Homo sapiens: one gene and its partners. The protein of the gene in region 1 interacts with the protein of each later gene in a pairwise test. Each region holds a gene or a part of one and is shown in the gene's direction. Other genes may lie near its edges.

Evidence for each region. The genes of interacting proteins can lie anywhere in the genome.
Region 2: the proteins of PSMG2 (region 1) and SLC35F6 interact in a two-hybrid assay, tested with the Homo sapiens proteins (one large-scale study listed by BioGRID and IntAct).
Region 3: the proteins of PSMG2 (region 1) and NOTCH2NLA interact in binary tests that used the Homo sapiens proteins (3 or more experiments, as listed by UniProt).

What each region holds. Positions count from the first base shown.
Region 1 is NC_000018.10:12,713,042-12,716,541, forward strand, and holds part of PSMG2 (proteasome assembly chaperone 2), read left to right. Parts: intron 1-3,500. UniProt on the Homo sapiens protein: Chaperone protein which promotes assembly of the 20S proteasome as part of a heterodimer with PSMG1.
Region 2 is NC_000002.12:26,774,284-26,777,783, forward strand, and holds part of SLC35F6 (solute carrier family 35 member F6 precursor), read left to right. Parts: coding exon 1-40; intron 41-760; coding exon 761-932; intron 933-1,180; coding exon 1,181-1,393; intron 1,394-2,088; coding exon 2,089-2,199; intron 2,200-3,500. UniProt on the Homo sapiens protein: Involved in the maintenance of mitochondrial membrane potential in pancreatic ductal adenocarcinoma (PDAC) cells. Promotes pancreatic ductal adenocarcinoma (PDAC) cell growth. May play a role as a nucleotide-sugar transporter.
Region 3 is NC_000001.11:146,163,022-146,166,521, reverse strand, and holds part of NOTCH2NLA (notch homolog 2 N-terminal-like protein A), read left to right. Parts: intron 1-1,511; coding exon 1,512-1,771; intron 1,772-3,500.

The sequences.
Region 1 (3,500 bases):
GTATTACCTTTCAGCTGGTGGCATCTACATATAAACTATGTATATATCAAATTATGTATATGTCATAAAATATTCTGAATCCGACTTCTTTCCTCCTCCACTGCTGTCATTGAGTGCAAACCAGTGTCATCTTCATGCCCCTGACTAACTTGCTGATCTGCCTCCCACAAACAGCAGCACTGATGATCCTCTAAACGTACACCACATCACTACTCTCTTTGAAACCCTCCAGTGGCTTCTCCTCTCACTCAAAATTGTGATCCAGGAAAAGGGGCTCGCTTCCTGATGCACTGTGACACCAGGTTTTTGAGACAAGAAAGGCTTTATATTGCAAATTGACTCCCAAGGAGACAGGAGTCGACCTCAAATCTGCCTCCCTGTGCTGACTTCAAGGCAGTGTTTTTATTAGAAAAGGTTCAGAGGGTGGATTCTGAGATCAGTAGGTGAGCGATGGAAGGAAAGGGGACATCTGGAAGGTCCTTGGGCATGCACAGTTATCTCCTCATGCTAACTCATAGGGCTCATGTGCCAATTCAGGGGAATGAGTATGAAACGTGATGGAGAGTCAGCTTGCGACACCAGGAAGCTTGTTCTCTGCAGACTCTACTTGGCCATATTGGTTCCAACCAATTTCAGCCAGTTCTTTTATCCCATAAGGGGAGGAAGTTTCAGTATTTTACCAAGTAGTTTCTTATCTGCTACCCTGCAAACTCAATAATTTCTTTCTTTTTTTTTTTTTGAGACAGTCTCCTCTGATGCCCAGGCTTAAGTGCACTGATGTGATCTCAACTCACTGCAGCCTCTGCCGTCCTGGGTTCAAGTGATCCTCCTGCCTCAGCCTCTGGGATTACAGGGACACGCCACCACACTGGCTAATTTTTGTATTTTTAGTAGAGACGGGGTTTTGCCATGTTGGCCAGGCTGGTCTCCAACTCCTGCCCTCAAGTGATCCACCCACCTTGGCCTTTCAAATGCTGGGATTACAGGTGTAAGCCACGCCCAGTCCAAACTCAAGAATTTGTTAGTCATTGGTTTCTTTAACTCTTTGAGGATGGTTTCAAATTCACAGCCCTTACTGTGGCCTATGAGGCTGTATATCTGTGCTAATACAGTAGCCACTAGCTACATGTAACTATTTACAGTTTAATTCATAAATTTAAAATTCAGTTCCTCACGTTCCAAGTTCGCAGGAGCCCCATATGCAAAAAGCCAGCATAACAAGAGTCATGCTCACAGGAGCTCTGCCAGACTGCTGCTTTGCAGAGCCTAACCTGCAGCCACACTGGCTTCCCTGTGTTGTTAGACATTAAGCTCATCCTGTCTCAGTCTTTCCACTAGCTTCTCTGCCGAAATTCATTTTCTTAGAGACTCCAATGGTTTGCCTCCTTTACTGTTTTCTTAAATGTTTCTTCATGAGAAAGGCCCTCCTAAACAATCCTTTCTTCCTTTTTTTTTTTTTTTTCCTTGAAACAGGGTCTCTCTTGCTCTGTCACCCAGGCTGGAATGCAGTGGCGTGATCTTGGCTCACTGCAACCTCTGCCTCCCAGGCTCAAGCCATTCTCCAACCTCACCCTCCCGAGTAGCTGGGATTACAGGCATGCACCACCACACCCGGCTAATTTTTGTATTTTTTTGTAGAGGTGGGGTTTCGCCATGTTGCCCAGGCTGGTCTTGAACTCCTGAGCTCAAGCAGTTCATGCTTCAGCTTCCCCAAAGTGCAATGGCGTGATCTCAGCTCACTGCAACCTCCGCCTCCTGGGTTCAAGTGATTCTCCTGCCTCAGCCTCGCAAGCAGCTGGATTACGAACGTGTGCCATTGTGCCCGGCTAAGTTTTGTATTTTTAGTAAAGATGGGGTTTCACCATGTTGGCCAGGCTGGTCTCAAACTCCTGACCTCAGGTGATCCACCCACTCCACCCACCTCAGCCTCCCAAAGTGCTGGGATTACAGGCATGAGCCACTGTGCCCGGCCCTCTTTTTTTTTGAGGCAGAGTTTTACTCTTGTCACCCAGGCTGGAGTTCAGTGGTGCAATCTCAGCTCACTGCAACCTCTGCCTGCTGGGTTCAAGCGATTCTCCTGCCTCAGCCTCCTGAGTAGCTGGGATTACAGGTGCCCGCCACCACACCTGGCTAATTTTTGTATTTTTAGTAGAGATGGGGTTTCACCATGTTGGCCAGGCTGGTCTCAAACTCTTGACCTCAGGTGATCTGCCCGCCTCAACCTCCCAAAGTAGTGGGATTACAGGTGTGAGCCACCACACCCAGCCGAAAGTAAGCTTCTGAAAGGAATGATGAAGTGTCATTTACTTTTATATCCCCAGCTCATAAGATAGTGTCATGCACATAGAGAAGCTCTCAGTAAATATTTGCTAAGGGATTTTTTGGAATGACCTGAGGTATCATCTTTTCAGGAGGTTAGAAATACAGGATTTTAGTGACATGGTTAACTGCATAGTACTTTTTATTTTAACTTTTCTTTTTGAGATGGAGTCTTGCTCTTGTCGCCCAGGCTGGAGTGCAGTGGCGTGATCTCAGGTCACTGCAACCTCCGTCTCCTGGGTTCAAGCAATTCTCTTGTCTCAGCCTCCTGAGTAACTGGGATTACAGGTGCCCGCCACCACGCCTGGCTACTTTTTGTACTTTTAGTAGAGTTGGGGTTTTGCCATGTTGGCTAGGCTGGTCTCACACTCCTGACCTTAGGTGATCTGCCCACCACAGCCTCCCAAAGTGCTGGGATTACAGGCGTGAGCCACTGTGCTCAGCCATTATTTTAACTTTTTATCGAAGTATGACGTACATGAGAAAAGTGCACAAATCATAAATATACAGCTTGGTGAATTTTCATGCAGTAAACCCTCTGTGAAACCAGCTTTCAGATCAAGACATAGAGCATTGTCAGCATTCCAGAGGACCCCATAATGCGTCCTAGTCAGTATTCTATTGGTGGAATTCTGTGGTATATACTTACAGCATCTAGCTTCCTTTCTTAACATTCCCTTTGCGGGGTTCACCCATGTTGTTGGAAGTAGCCATAGTTCATTCGTTCTCATTTCTCTGTGGTGTTAAGTTGTATACATAAGCCATAATTTTTCCATGGTACTTTTGATGCTACATTTGATTATTTCCAGTTTGAGACTATCATGAATAGTGCTGCTAAGATTATTTTTAATTCTTATACTAGAATCACTGCTTTCTTTAGTTAACATTATATACCCAAAGTTTTGCAGTTAGAGTTGGTAACATTTTTACATTGTGCCACATGGCTTTTTGTTCTCTTTCTAATCAGTGTAAGTTGAAAAATTATTTAACGTATAATATAAATTTTTGGCAGCTGGAAGTAAAGAGTGAATTTTTTTTTTTTTTTTTTTTTGAGACGGAGTCTCGCCCTGTTGCGCAGGCTGGACCGCAGTGGCATGATCTCGGCTCACTGCAAGCTCCACCTCCTGGGTTCACGCCACTCTCCTGCCTCAGCCTCCCGAGTAGCTGGGACTACAGGCGCC
Region 2 (3,500 bases), on another chromosome or scaffold:
AGGGAGCAAGGAGCACAGCTTCCAGCATCCCTTCCTCCAGGTATCTGGCCCTGTCCCTCCTACCTCCTGTCTCCCGGGCCTCAGACCAGGCGCCACCCCCGGCCATGAGGCCAGGCTGTTTCCTGACTTAGGAGTGGAGGTGTCTCCTGCTCCCAGAAGAGCCATCCACTTCTCTCTTTCCCTCCCCAGAGCAGAATCCAAGGTTTAGAATAGGGCAAAGAGCACCATCCTCTGCGAAAGTCCTGGCAAGTGGTCATGTCCTCACCACATCCAAGTCAGGACACGTGGAAAACATCAGCCCTAGTGACAAAAGTCAGCTCTCTATCCACTGGGAGCCCAGACCCCAATTGGGACAGGGCAGACACCATAAATGGAAGACACTGTTCGTTGAACTGAGAATCAGGAGACTCAAATGTCAGCCCCAGCTCTACCAGCAACTTGCTTTGTGGCCTTACATAAGTCTTTGAGCCTCTCTTGGGTCTAGGCTTCTCCACCTGCGATTTGACTAGGGGTTGGCCTAGATGGATGGTTTTCAGACAGGGCTCTGCACAGCCTTAGGGTTCATCAGGATGTATGGGGGCTTTGGGGCAGACCTAGGAGGCTGTCTCTAGCCTCCATGGCAGCTCTGCATTTGTCTATTTTACATATTGGGGTTCTGGGTAAGCTCTTGTTTGACAAAAGTTTGCATTAAAAAAAATAGTTAAAGATGATCCCCGAGATCCCTTCCAGCTCTGAAGTCCTCGGGTTTTCATCCCTGCAGGCAGTGGGCATGTTCCTGGGAGAATTCTCCTGCCTGGCTGCCTTCTACCTCCTCCGATGCAGAGCTGCAGGGCAATCAGACTCCAGCGTAGACCCCCAGCAGCCCTTCAACCCTCTTCTTTTCCTGCCCCCAGCGCTCTGTGACATGACAGGGACCAGCCTCATGTATGTGGGTGAGTAACCAGGCCAGGCTGAGAAGGGCTCAGGGGAAGCTGTGGCTGAAGGGGCTACTGGTGAAACAGCCCTATCCCACCCACCTCCACTTCATCCCACCATTCCCCCAGACTTCACACGCACAGGCACACAGGCAGGACTGATCGAGCGCTTACTATGAGCTTGGCATGTCTATCACCAAAGACCCCTTAGTGACAGATGGCCTTCGCCTTGGGAAGCTAACTGTAATTTGTTTCTCCTTTCCTAGCTCTGAACATGACCAGTGCCTCCAGCTTCCAGATGCTGCGGGGTGCAGTGATCATATTCACTGGCCTGTTCTCGGTGGCCTTCCTGGGCCGGAGGCTGGTGCTGAGCCAGTGGCTGGGCATCCTAGCCACCATCGCGGGGCTGGTGGTCGTGGGCCTGGCTGACCTCCTGAGCAAGCACGACAGTCAGCACAAGCTCAGCGAAGTGATCACAGGTGCGGCCAGGGGCAGGGACACGGGGCTGCCCTATCCTGCCCTGTCCTCCTTGGGAGCCCAGCACAGACTCATACAAGCTCTGCCATGTGCCATATACCAAGCCCTGGGTGAGGTGGGTAGCTCTGGAGGTGATGGATAGAATGTAGGGAAGACTGCAAAGGGATGTGGCTCCACCAAGGATGAGTGGCAGGCCGGGCAGGGCGAGGGGCTGGCTTGTCCTTTGATACAGATGCAGACATGCAAACTACTGGATTTGGGAGTGGAAAGGAACAGGTGCTTACCAAGTGCCCAGCCTGGTGCTGAGCACTGTGTGTTCATCATCACAGTGACTCCCACAGGCCCCAAACGGATGCATCACAGCCCATTTTACAATGAAATGACTGTCCTGGGTCACTTAGGGTCAGGATCAACCAAGAAATGTCTATCTCAAAGCCTGTTGCTTCTTGAAAGACCTGCGTCATACCCCGTGGGGCAGCTCTTAGACACAGGCAGGCCTCTGGGGCCTTAGCCTGGCACTGCTGGCATGCCCCTCAGGAACCAGGGAATCAGGGACAGGCAGTGGTGACTGTGCCTATGAACTATAGGGGGCCCTGCAGAGGTCAGGGGCTGGCATGTTTGGTCGCTGTGGCCATGCTCTCCTGGCCCCCAGCCCCAGTGCAGCCCTGTTCTCATCTGGGTCCCTCCTTCCCCACAGGGGACCTGTTGATCATCATGGCCCAGATCATCGTTGCCATCCAGATGGTGCTAGAGGAGAAGTTCGTCTACAAACACAATGTGCACCCACTGCGGGCAGTTGGCACTGAGGGTGTGTGTGGGCACAGGGGCCTGGAAGGAGTGGGGTAGAAGGGAGCCTGGGGAGCTGAGCACAGGACAAGGTGCCAGGGTTCACTTGTGGGGGGTGAACTTCCTGCCCCGCCTTGCCTTCCAGATGTGTTTTGACAAGTCTTCTGACACCTGCTGTGTCAGGAACTAGAGGAGACCAAGGACAGAGATGAATGAGATGCAAGCCCTTCAGAGGAGGTGACCAGCAGGAAGAAAGGGCAGTCAGTGAATTCAAGTTTGGACCACTTGTGCTCAACTGATGTCTCATTGGCCATGCCTATCTGAGTCTCTCAGGGCAGGGAGGGTGGCATTCGAGCTGCAAATTTCAACAGGCAGTAGTAGGAGCAGCTCCAAACAGAGCAAAGGCACAGGGGACTGGATGTGAATTTGAAAACCAGTGAGGAATAATTTTGAGTGTGGCCAGGTGCGGTGGCTCATACCTGTAATCCCAGCACTTTTGAGAGACCAAAGCGGGTGGATCACTTGAGGTCAGGAGTTTGAAACCAGCCTGCCCAACATGGCAAAACCGTCTCTACAAAAAATACAAAAATTAGCTGGGCGTGGTGGCGCATGCCTGTAGTCCCAGCTACTCAGGAGACTGAGACAGGAGAATCGCCTGAACTGGGGGAGCAGAGGCTGCAGCAAGCCGAGATTGCGCCACCGCACTCCAGCCTGGGCAACAGAACGAGACTCCATCTCAAAAAATAATAATTTGAGTGCAGTATAGGTTTGATGTTGGGGAAATAATCAGGAATTAAGTAGGTCAGGGTCATGTCATTAGAGAACTTTACCATCAGGCAAGTAGATTTAGACTTTAAATGACGGAGGAATCACTGAAAGTTTTTGAGCAGGGAAGTAAGTATCAAAATTATGAGATTAGCAAGATACAGCTGCGCTTTCAAAGAATGTCCTGGGGGCTAGTGCCTGTTGGGGAGCAGCTCTTGTCTGGCCCCCGGTGAGCTAAGGGACTTAGGCAGAATGTGAATTAGCTATATCACTGAGCATGCAGTCTATTTCCACTCATTTCTGTTTTCTAGCAAGACCTTAATGAGTGAAGCAGTGCATGGACTTACCTTCTGGCGCAAGCTCCTTGTCACAGACCAGTAACACACTGAACTAGAAAGCTGTGTTTTTCCAAACTTGTGAAAATAATGTAGTCAGTTGCAGCTGGCAGTTCTTTTTTTAAATGAATAGAATTTTTAAATATCAGAGCATTGTATACTGTAAGGGTAATGTTTTTATGAGTGTGTGTGTGTGTGTGTGTCCATGAACCTGTGCACACGT
Region 3 (3,500 bases), on another chromosome or scaffold:
CGCTCCTTGCTCTGCCATGCTTATCTTATGCAGCTCTGGGAGGGGTGAAGAGGCTGTGGCCAGTTACCTCACTACCACTATAGCTATTCACCACCCTGTTTTCTCCTTTAGCCATTTTAGCTACTACACAATTCTTCTGGGCATTTTCTGTCTTAGTTCCCTAGTATCTGGCCTTCCCTCTTTTCTCAGTAACTGTGACCCCTGCTAGCTAGCCTTGCCAACCAATGGTTAATGAAAGGTCTTGGATATGACTGTCAAAGACAAAAGCACTCATGACCCCAATGTTTCAGGTCACAATGATTAGGAAAATCAGGACAACAAGGCTTGGGCACAGAAAAGCTGGTTTTTGAGAGGGGGATTTAGAGTTTGGTTTAAATGTGTAATCTTTGAGGTAATGGTGGAACAGCCTACTAGATTCAGTTTTCTAGTCCCTGAAAACTAAAACGAGGAATAAGTTGAATCACATATTTGGGGCACCAGCCAAATATATAGCAGCATTTATAGTTAGAATCAAAGTGTTTGTGTTTCTTAATTTAAATGCTTCTCAGAGATTCCATTTAAACAACTTCATTATGAAAATGGAGACTTACCATGCCTTTTTGATATTGTTCAGAGAAAATTGTCATAAATAATACACACAGTTTGAAATGGTTGTACATCTTATGAATCAAGGGGTGGCATGTAAAAAGGTTCCTCAGTGCCTCAATGTGGAAAATATCATAGAATGTTATTCTTCAATTGATTCCTTCCTTGACTTTGGTGTTTATATGGTATCTTAGATATTTTATGTTATTTTAATTATATTTTGTGTCTTTTTATTTGGTTAAAAATGCCTACTTAAATATTAACAGATTTTTAAATATCCCTTTGAACTCTTCCCCATTCCTGTACCTCCTTTCCCTTTTTCCGTTGTAATGTCAGCCACCTGAACATAACCCAGAAAACTAGGTATCATCCAATTGATGTTTCAGTGGAAATAAGAGAAAGAAGCACTTACTATTTCTCAATGCTTAATTGAGGAAAAGCACATGATATCTTACATATTTTAAATTGGAGGGGATAATAGGGTCAAGTTCATGCATTATATTGTGGACATCTTAATCCTATCAAATGGCTTAGTCAAAATGAGAAAGTTAATGAATTTAAGCAGACAAGTACGAACAGTGCTCTAAAAAAGGTGCTGTTACACCATCCCAACCTGTACACACATGAAAAAAAGCTGGGGTGCATTTTGCGTTTGAATAAGGGTCATGTTGACTGGCCATGGCAGACCCTGCTAGACCATACACCTGATACTCTGTCACCTGCCAGGACTCAAAAGGACATGGGAGTATGTGGTTAAGTTCTCTAAGGACTCTTTCTTCTAAAGGGAAGCAGTTTTATAGGTGGTCCTTGTAGGTCTGTTGATTCACAATCTCGTGCTTTCTTGATTGGACTGTATTGTTTTACTGTAATTTTTTGGACTTACAAGAAGTCAGGTGTTTTCATGGACTCTTCTCTTTTCCATACAGATGTCCAGAAGGCTTCTTGGGGGAATATTGTCAACATCGAGACCCCTGTGAGAAGAACCGCTGCCAGAATGGTGGGACTTGTGTGGCCCAGGCCATGCTGGGGAAAGCCACGTGCCGATGTGCCTCAGGGTTTACAGGAGAGGACTGCCAGTACTCGACATCTCATCCATGCTTTGTGTCTCGACCTTGCCTGAATGGCGGCACATGCCATATGCTCAGCCGGGATACCTATGAGTGCACCTGTCAAGTCGGGTTTACAGGTAACTAATGAGACCAAAGCCAGTGCTTTCCTACCTTCAGCAGATACCTTTATTTAGCATCTTTTAGATCATGGTGTCTGGCTCTTAAATGTCCCCCAGCTCTGGTGCACATTTAACATTATGATAAGGAACTGGGATGTTCCAGACAACTATCCCTAACTTCCTTTTAAGAGTTTCAGGGGGCAGAGAAAGAGAAAGAAAAAGGACCAAATACTTTGACTGCTTAAAGTATATATGTCAGGGCCAGGTGCGGTGGCGCACGCTTGCAATCCCAGCATTTTGGCAGGCCAAGGCAGGAGGATCACTTGAGGCTAGAGGTTTGAGACCAGCCTGGGAAACATAGCAAGACCCCATCTCTACAAAAAAACAAGAATAAAAATAAAACAAAATTAGTCATGTGTGGTGGTGTGCACCTGTAGTCCTAACTACTTGGGAGGCTGAAGTGGAAGAATTGCTTGAGCCCAGGAGTTTGAGGCTGCAGTGAGCTATGATCGCACCACTGCACTCTAGCCTGGGTGACAGAGTGAGACCCTGTCTCAAAAAAAAAAATATGTACACCAGGATGGGGAATCAGAGTTTACTTCACTAAAAGAAATAAGTACACTGTCACCAGAGGAAAAGTTGCTGATGTTATTGACTATTTGCTTTTAGAAATCTCCCTCCCTAGACATTCAGGGCACTGGCTTTTCTGGTTTTCTGAACCCTGTTCCTTTTGCTTCTTCATTACCTTGTTCTTATCCATTAAATGTTTGTGCTCCCTGGAGCACTGTTTTGCGCCCTCTTTTGAGCCACATCACAGCTCTCCCTAGGGAATTTCACTGTCTGTATTCGCCTCCACTGCCACTGTCTTCATTAGCTTGCTGATGAATCTCACCATCATTCCCTTAGCTCCACCCAACCCTGACATTCAGGCTCATGTTTCTAGTTATCCTTTGTATGTTCTCCTTGGAGATATTCTACAGGTACTTTCAGCTCACCTTGTTGACAGAAATACGTAGCAACCATGTACATCCCAAATACCCACGCTAGAAACTCCCTGTCCCTTGTTCTGACCTCATTTCAACTCAGTCACCCAAGCCAACCTCTGAGTTGCCTTTCACCTGTCTATTCCTCCCATTTCCTCTGCTACCCTGTAGTTGAAGGCCATGTTATCTCTCACCTGGGCTTCTGAAGTAGTTTCTGAATACGTTTTCTTGCCTTTATTCTCTCCCCATCTCATTCACCCATGATATTACTACATCTTTGATTATAAATGCAAATATTCTAACAATCTCACCTGCTTACAATGTCTAATATTTTTTCATCATCCGCAGAATAAACTGCAAACTCTTTTACATGACTTCCATAGCTCTCTACAGCCTAGACTTTACATCTTTTTATAGCCTGGCCTCCCCACAAGCATCTAGGCCTAGTCACACCAAATTCTCCTTATTTCCTGAAAATGTTGTACTTATTATTGCTTCCATACAGTTACACACCCTTTTGCCTGGAATGCCCTTTTCTACAACTGGTGATTGTCCAATGTTATTTAAAACTGTGTCTCAGTGACCCTTTCATGATTCCTTTAGGCAAATGGTCTCTAAGTTTTATTAGTTTTATGTATCACATTTTATTGTAATTTTTTTTACACATATCTCACCTGAATAGATTGTGGGTTTTTCTAGGTGGGTCTGAGCTTTATTCAAAAGTGTTTATTAAATTAGATGAGAAAAGGAGGAACATTCTTCAT